2 separate regions of the Homo sapiens genome follow, and region 1 is linked to region 2. The links come from fine-mapping of genetic effects on gene expression. A gene starts in region 2. The other region holds a variant in brackets. All regions are shown on one strand. Distances are from middle to middle.

Region 1 (4,389 bases), 290 kb before region 2:
CTCTGTCTGTACAAAAAATAAAAAATTAGCTGAGTGTATTGAGTGTGGTGGTGCACGTCTGTACTCTCAGCTATTGATAAGGCGGAGGTGGGAAGATCGCTTGAGCCCGAGGTCGGGGCTGCAGTGAGCTGTGATTGTGCCACTGTACGCCTGGGCGACAGAGTGACTCTGTCTCAAAAACAAACAAAAAACTAAGCAGAGCTGGGTGCAGTGGCTCACGCCTGTAATCCCAGCACTTTGGGAGGCCGAGGTGGGTGGATCACTTGAGGCCAGGAGTTTGAGACCAGCCTGGCCAACTTGGTGAAACCCTGTCTCTACTAAAAATACAAAAATTAGCTGGATGTGGTGGTGTGCACCTGTAATCCCAGCTACTTGGGAGGCTGAGGCAGGAGAAATGCCTTGGACTCAGGGGGCAGAAGTTGCAGTGAGCCAACCGAGATCATGCCACTGCACTCCAGCCTGGGTGACAGAGCGAGACTCTGTCTCCAAAAAACAAAACAAAAACAAAAAAACCAACAATTAAGCGGGTGGGATCTGGGTCGGGATTCAGGCAGGCTGCGTGGACCTCGTGGGCCACGTGGTGGGATTGGCCTCCGTGTGGGTTTGTGGGTTTGGCTGTGGAATCCTGGTGCCAGCAGGAGGCTATATCAGACCTGGGAGGCGGGACTGGAGGTGGGGTCGTGGTTCCCTGCTCTGGGGTGAGGCTGGAACACATGGGCACCTCCACGCTGCTGTGTGGGTGGGCCTCACCTTGAACTTTCGGGTACTTCATGAATGCCAGGAAGGCGTGGCGCAGCGTGGTGCCCACCGTCTCGGTGCCGCCAAAGAGCAGGTTATGTGTGGTCATCAGCAGGGTATCCATGTGGAAGTGGCTCAGCGGGTCCTCCTTCTTCTGCCGTGGTAGAGGGGTGGGGATATGAGCCAGGGATGGAGACCCCTTCACTCTAGACCAGTACAACTGCTGCTGGGGGCCCATTCAGTCCCAGCTGGGTTTAACTTTCTTTCCCTGGGAGAGCTGGGGAACGCAGAAGGGCAGGGCAGGGAAAATCTCAGCTGCAGGGCCTACAATTAACTTCTTGGATAGAGCTTGAATGACTTCTTGTTTTTTTAAAAAATACATTTTATGTATGTATGTATGTATGTATGTGTGTATGTATGTATGTATGTGTGTGTATGTGTGTATGTATGTATGTGTGTATGTATGTCTGTATGTGTGTATGTATGTATGTGTGTATGTATGCATGTGTGTATGTGTGTATGTATGTGTATGTGTGTGTATGTATGTGTGCATGTATGTGTGTATGTGTGTATGTATGTATGATGTATGTATGTGTGTATGTGTGTATGTATGTATGTATGTGTGTGTGTATGTATGTGTGTATGTATGTGTTGTAGAGACTGGGTCTTACTATATTGTCCAGGCTGGTCTCGAACTCCTGGACTCAAGCGATCCTCCTGCCTCGGCCTCCCAAAGTGCTGGGATAACAAGCCTGAGCAACTGCCCCCTCCGCCCTGCCCCACCTCCTTTGATGACTTCTTAATGAGCTGTAAGTTGGCGGTGGCTGCGAGTGGCTCCTGGCTCCAGCCCAGCTGGGCCAGATGCTTCAGCTTCTCCAGGGAGAAGGTCCCCCAACCCTGCCCCATCTGGGGTCCCTGTGGGTTTGAGGCAGGGGCAGCAGGAGAATTTCAGGTCAGACTAGAGGTGGGATTTCCAGGTAGGGATTACCTCTGCCATCTTGGTGAGGAAGCAGTGGATGAAGTCCCGGGGAGATCTGGGGTCTAGCGAGGCCTGGTGGTCGTGGACGCTGTGGGCGATGAGGTCTCTCAGGCACTTGAAGTTCTGGAAGATGCGTTGGTGCGGCCCAGGCACCCAGTTCAGGAGGCTCGGGAAGATGTCGTACAACTGGGGACCAGACAGAGTAGGAGGGTTTTGGAGGAGGACGAAGGGTGTTCAGGGGCGAATGGGGTCAGTGTGGATTAGGTAGGCAGGGACAGGGTCTCAAAGGGCAGCCAGGTCCGGGGTGGGGGTTGGGGCTGAGGGGGAGTGGGAAGGAGGCAGTGGCGGCCATAAATGCTCAGTGG[A/G]GGGGAGTGGGCGTGGCCGTGTAACTCTGGGTGGGGTCAGATGGGAGGGGGCGGGCCCTGGGCGGGCCATTCACAGCCCTTTCCCCGCCCACTGTTTCCTCTCCATTCCTAGATCCTGCGGACCCCACACCCTGCCCCTGCTGGACTCAGTTGGCTGACCTCGCCCCAGGGGCTGCTCATGATTTGAAAGTTGTCATTGATAAGGCGGATAATGGTGAGCAGACGCTCATCATCATAGTCGAAGCGGCTGCCGAAGAGCACGGAACAGATAATGTTGGACCGTGAGCGACTCAGCACAAACGTGGGGTCAAAGGGCTCGCCTGAGGGTGAAGAATGGAATGGGTCAGGAAGACGCGATGTGCAGCACACCAGACCTCATGCAGCAACACCATTAATTTGCACAACATCCGACTCAACCATGGCAACGTGTCTTACGGTGCAAACACGGGCACATGGTCACAACATGCTGCTTAACAACACCCCAAAAGCATCTGTCAATGCCACAGACAGCACCGAACCCACAGCTTCCTGCAGCACATCGACAGCAACAACGCCCAACCACAGAACAGGTTGGCAACACACACACAGCACGCGACATAGCACAAGGCAATCATCAGGCATCACGGAACACAACAACACAGGGCAACAGAACACCCAGCAAATACGATCACAGTACATGCCAACACACGACACGCAGTGACCTAATAGCCAGCCCGGAAACATCCCAAGACACGGTAACCACACACCAACACGTAATGCCAGCATACCGCTACATAATCCTGCCACACAACACACGCTAGTACACAGCAACCCAGCAGACAGCACAGAACACACGATGTGGCATCACAACACATACAGTCAAGGCAGCAGAACAAAGGACACACTATGCAGCAACGCAACAACGTTGGCAGCCAGCAGATGACACAATGCAAAATCACATGCAGTGCCTGACAACTCTACAATCTCACCCAGAAATATCTCAACACAACACGTAGCATCTGGCCGTCCAACAGCTGAACAGACCATAGTAAATACTGAACAACACATTTCTTTCTTTCCTTTTTTCGAGATGAAATCTCGCTCCGTCGCCCATGCTGGAGTGCGGTGGCACGATCTCAGTTCACTGCAACGTCTGCCTCCCAGGTTCAAGAGATTCTCCTGCCTCAGCCTCCCAATGAGCTGAGATCACACCCGGCTAATTTTTTTGTATTTTTAGTAGAGATGGGGATTCACCATGTTGTCCAGACTGGTCTCGAACTCCTGACCTCAAGTGATGTGCCCACCTTGGCTTCCCAAAGTGCTAAGATTATAGGCATGAGCCACCGCGCCTGGTCTAGTTTTTGTATTTTTTGTAGATACAGGGTTTCACCATGTCGCCCAGGCCGGTTTCGAATTCCTGAGCTCAAGTGATCCACCACCTTGGCCTCCCAAAGTGCTAGGATTACAGGCGTGAGCCACCATGCCCGGCCAAAACAGCATATTTCAACACAGCACCCAGGACACAATAGCACAGCCCAAAAAACCAGATCTGGAGTTAGATGGACGCGGTTTGAATCCTCGTTGGTCTCTTAGCCTTGGTGTGACTTGGGCAAACTGACTTCCTTTTTCCGAGCCTCAGTCTTCTCATCTGTAAAATGGGCCTGATGGCACTCCTCTCATCCTGGGGCTACTATAAGGAGTCAGTGAGTGTGTGACTGGGAGTCAGTGAAGGGCCTGACCCATTGCAAGGCTGTTACAGATCATGGTGTTGTGGCAGGTTGTAATGCCCCCCAAAAGATGTCCAGGTCCTTATCCTTACAACCTGTGAATTTGTTACCTTACATGGTAAAAAGGACCTTGCAGGTGGGATTAAGTTGAGGATTTTGAGATGAGAAGTTTACTCTAGACTGTCTGGCTGGGCCTAATGTAATCACAGGGATCCTTTTTAGAGGGAGGCAGGAGGGACTGAGTAAGAAAAGATAATGTAGGCTGGGTGTGGTGGGTCACACCTGTAATCCCAGAATATATTGGGAGGTTGAGGAAGGAGGATTGCTTGAGCACAGGAGTTTGAGACTAGCCTGGGCAACATAGCAAGACTCCCTCTCTATAAAAAGTTAAAAGAATGAGTTGAATGTGGTGGCACATGCCTGTAATCCCAGCTACTTGAGAAGCTAAGGCGGGAGAATCAGTTGAGCTCAGGAGGTCAAGGCTGCAGTGAGCCAAGACCATACCACTGCACTCCAGCCTGGGCAACAAGAGTGAAGCTTCATTTCAAACAAACAAACAAACAATCAAACAAGTAAACAAACAGACCCCAAACTATTATTT
Region 2 (4,319 bases):
CCTACCACACACAGGATGCAGCCCCCACCACCCATGAAGGCCCAAGACATCAACAGCAGTGAGTTGAGAAATTGCAATACATCCCTTCCTTGCCCCAAGTTCCCTCTGTAGCAGGAGAGCAAGTCAGAATAACAGAACTCAAAGCCTCTTAAAACCCCCCTTCTCGGCCACACATGGTGGCTCACGCCTGTAATCCCCAGAGGCCCAGGTGGGAGGATCGCTTGAGCCCAGGAGTTGGGGACCAGACTGGGTGACATAGCATGCTAGATCTCATCTCTACTAAAAATTTTAAAAATTAGCCAGGTGTGGTGATGCGTGCTTGTAGTCCCAGCTACTTGGGAAGCTGAGGCAGGAGAATCCCTTAAGCCCAGGAGATCGAGGCTGCAATGAGCTATGATCACACCACTAAACTCCAGTCTGGGTGACAGAGTGAGACCCTGTGTCAAAACAAACTAACTAACTGCCCTTCCCATAAATCCCAGTTTCCCCAATCAGGTGGTCCCATTAGGCCCATCTTTTTTTTCTTTTTTTTTCTTTTTTTTGAGTCAAAGTTTCACTCTTGTTGCCCAGGCTGGAGTGCAATGGTACAATCTCAGCTCACTGCAACCTCCACCTCCCGGGTTCAAGTGATTCTCCTGCCTCAGCCTCCTGAGTAGCTGGGATTATAGGCAAGCACCACCACGCCTGGCTAATTTTTTTTGTATTTTTAGTAGAGACAGGGTTTTGCCATGTTGGTCAGGCTGTCTCAAACTCCTGACCTCAGGTGATCCACCCACCTCGGCCTCCCAAAGTGCTGGGATTACAGGCATGAGCCACCACGCCCAGCCTCATTAGGCCCCTCTTAACCAAGTTCTAGGGTGAGGGATAAGTTGCTTACAGGGTTGGCGTGGATACAGCACTACACCCTCCCCTTAAAAGTAGGGAGTAGACGCCAAGGGAAACTAGAGCTATATAATCCCATCATCAAGCCTTCAGCCCTCTTCCAGGACCTGCCCCAACCGGCCTATCCAGGACTGAAACAACAGCATGGGCCCCACCTCCACCCCACCATATGCCTGGGACCTAGGGTGTCAAATTCCCCAGGACCTCCAAACACTTCCTCCTCTGCCCCTCTGAGAACAGCAATCCTGGTGCACACCCACGAACCTGTGGGGGTACCCACACCTCCACCTGGCCTCCCAGACCCTTGACCGCAGGGGCTCTCCACCCAGCCTAGCCCCTGGCACCAGAGCCCTGGCCCAGCTCCAGGTTTTGCATTCTGCCCTTGTGACCTGGCCAGGAGGTGGGTAACTAGGGCCAGTTTCTTCTTCTTTTTTTTTTTTTTTTTTTTTTGAGACCGAGTCTCACCCTGTTGCCCAGGCTGGAGTGCAGTGGCATGTTCTTAGCTCACTGCAACCTCCACCTCCCGGGTTCAAGCGATTCTCCTGCCCCAGCCTCCCAAGTAGCTCAGACTACAGGCGTGAGCCACCATGCCTGGCTAATTTTTGTATTATTAGTAGAGACAGGGTTTCACCATGTTGGCCAGGCTGGTCTTGAACTCCTGACCTCAGGTGATCCACCCACCTCGGCCTCCCAAAGTGCTGGGATTACAGGCGTGAGCCACTGCGCCTGGCCTACTAGGGTGAGTTTCTAAGGCAGGAGCTGAGAGTAGACATGGCTAGTAGGGTGCTCAGGAGGGCAGGAGGAGGGCTGTTTATGAGCCAGTGGTGGGAGAGAGTGTCATTCTAGTCTGAGAGGCTTTTTCCCTGTGGCTTCCAGCTCTGCCCTTTTCTTAAACACTCCTTCAGCCTCAGCTTGGCTTCAGTCCCACCAAGTGCAGTCTGACTCGTGGAGACATGAGAGATAGAGAGAGTGAGAGACCAGAGAGATCAGGAGACAGTGACTGAGAGGGACTTACAGGGAGATCAGGGAGAGAAGCAGAGAGAAGGAGAAAGCCCAGAGAGCATAAGAAATGAAGACCCAGAGACACCAAAGGAGGGAGAGACAGAGACACAGAGAGACAAAAAGATTCAGAGGCAGAGACTGTAGAGGCAGAAGCAAAGCAAGACACAGAGCATTTCAGAGACCCACGGCAAGAGACAGGGAACAGCATGGAGAACTATGAAAAAATAGGCTTCCAGAGAAAGAGAAAACTCCAGCTCTGGAGGGAAAGGGACTTAGCCAGGGCCACTCGGCCCATCAGTGGCAGAAATGGACTTGAACCCAGAGAAAAAGAAACAAGTGCCCCAAATACCAAAGGAACCCAGCCCCCATCCCTGGCCCATCATTTTGCGACAGCCCCATGACTACCCCAAAACCAGGCCCAGGCTCCAACTGGCAAAGCAAAAAAAAAAAACAAAGAAAGAAAGAAAGCTTTGCCCCATCCCAGGAGGGCCCCCAGGCGCAGCCCCCTCCCACGGCACCTTTCCAGCTGGCTGTGAGCCCTAGGGCCGCAGGAAAGGTATGGCAAGATGATGGGAGGGATTTAAAGTTCACAGCGAGAACAAGAAAAGTGGGGTTAAGGAGGAGGGTGTGGGCAGAAACAACTTAAGAACAACCTCTGCCCCACCACCCCCCAAGCACACCCAGAGCTGCAGGCTCTAGCGCATCCCAGCCAGTGTCTCCTGCAGCTCAGCAGGTAAAGGGCCCCGGTGAGGGAGGCAGAGAAGGAGGGGGTGTCTCCCAAGAGAGGGTGGGTCGCCAGCTCCAATCTCTGTCTCTGAGACTGGCTAGGAATCTTTTTTGCTGTTTCCTCTGAGAGCTCTCATGTCCCTGTTCTGAGCACTGGGATTTCTTTACTGGTGCTTCACCAAGTAGGTGGCTTCTCTCTCTGCAATGCAACCCCATGGTTGGCAACACTTGATTTTTTCCTGTCACTGTTTCTGCCTGTGCCCTTCCTCTCTGTCTCCGTCTCTTTCTCTCTCTCTCTCTCTCTTTTTTTTTTTTTTTTTTTTTTTGAGGCTGGAGTGCAGTGGTTCAATCTCAGCTCACTGCAACCTCCACCTCCTGGGTTCAAGCGATTCTCCTGCCTCAGCCTCCTGAGTAGCTGGGATTACAGGTGCCTAACACCACGCCTGACTAATTTTTGTGTTTTTAGTAGAGACAGGGTTTCACCATGTTGGCCAGGCTGGTCTCAAACTCCTGACCTCAAGTGATCCGCCTGCCTCGGCCTCCCAGAGTGCTGGGATTACAGGCGTGAGCCACCGTGCCCGGCCTCAGTCTCTCTTGGTCTGCCCTTTGCAGCCTACCCGTCTCTTTGTGTGGCTCTAATATTCCCTGCCTCTCTTATTCTCTCTCTCTCTCTCTCCATCTCTGTCTATGTGACTCTGTCTTTGTGTATCTGTTTCTGTCTGTCATTCTCGTCTCCCTCAGTCTCTGTGTCTAGCTCTGTCTCTCCCTCTCTCTGTCCCTCTTACCCTTTTTCTCTCCATCCTTCCATGTCCCTCTCTGTCTCTCAGTCAGTGTCCATCTCACTGTCTCTCCACTCAATCTCCCTTGTCTTTCTCTAGCTCTGTGTCTGTCTAGTTCTGTCTCTTTCTTTCTCTAGTCTATGTCAGCCTCTCTCTTTCTGTGATGTGCTCTCTGGCTCTCCCTATCTCTGTGTTTGTCTGTCTCTGTCCCTGTGTGTCTTGATCTCTCTTTATCACTGTCTCTGTATGACAGTCTCTTGACAGACAGGTGATGATAGATAGATAATAGACAGATGATACACAGATGATAGATTATGAAGATAGTAGATAGATGATAGATATAGATAGATAATAGATGATAGATAATAGACAGATCAATGATAGATGATAGAAGAATAGATAGATGATGGATAGACAGATGATAGATGATAGATAGATAGATAGATGATAGATAGATGTTGATAGATGTTAGATAATAGATGAGAAACAAAGAAAGAAAGAAAAAGAAAAAAGAAAGAAAGAAAAAGAAAGGAAGGAAGGAAGGAAAGAAAGAGTGATAGATGATAGATGGCTGATAGGTAGACAGACATCTGTAGATATGTAGATCGCTCACTGTTTTTCTGTCTCTCTCATTATCTTTATGCATATCTCTTGGCCTCTCTTAGTCTCTGTTCCTCTATCACTTGCCTCTCTCCATTTATGTCTCTGTGTTTCTGTCTCCTTATCTGTCTATATGTTGACTATCTCTGCCTCTTTCCTCCTTTCTCCCTCCCTTCCCCATCCCCTGGCCTCTCCCTGTCTCCTTCTCTCCATCTGCCTTCATTTCCAGGGCCTAGGGAAGGTAAGTCCCAGGGGAGATGGAAAGGAGGGATCAGCGATGTCCTCTCCCACTTTGCCCTCCACACGCCAGCAGCTGCCTTCACCATGGAC

Which allele goes with the higher level. Alleles are on the strand shown, and positions count from the first base shown. SD is a standard deviation of normalised expression in the study named.
For the expression in platelets of the gene that starts at base 2,557 in region 2, G is the low allele of the variant in region 1 and A is the other (moderate effect, 0.67 SD a copy in CEDAR).

What was found. PIP is the estimated chance that this variant, and not a neighbour inherited with it, causes the effect. A credible set is the group of variants that fine-mapping cannot tell apart.
Region 1: its variant is the best candidate, but not a certain one, in a credible set for the expression of CYP2F1 in platelets (CEDAR, PIP 0.85).

What each region holds. Positions count from the first base shown.
Region 1 is chr19:40,824,370-40,828,758 of GRCh38, forward strand. It overlaps the pseudogene CYP2F2P. Among named protein-coding and RNA genes, the nearest start is that of CYP2A6, 24 kb to the right of the region's middle. RefSeq lists enhancers at 2,013-2,514, 2,515-3,014. The variant A/G (reference allele first, on the strand shown) is at 2,083.
Region 2 is chr19:41,111,876-41,116,194 of GRCh38, forward strand. It overlaps CYP2F1 (cytochrome P450 family 2 subfamily F member 1), which reads left to right and starts at 2,557. Exons shown (of 10, transcript NM_000774.5): 1 at 2,557-2,617; 2 at 4,303-4,319. The coding sequence starts at 4,314.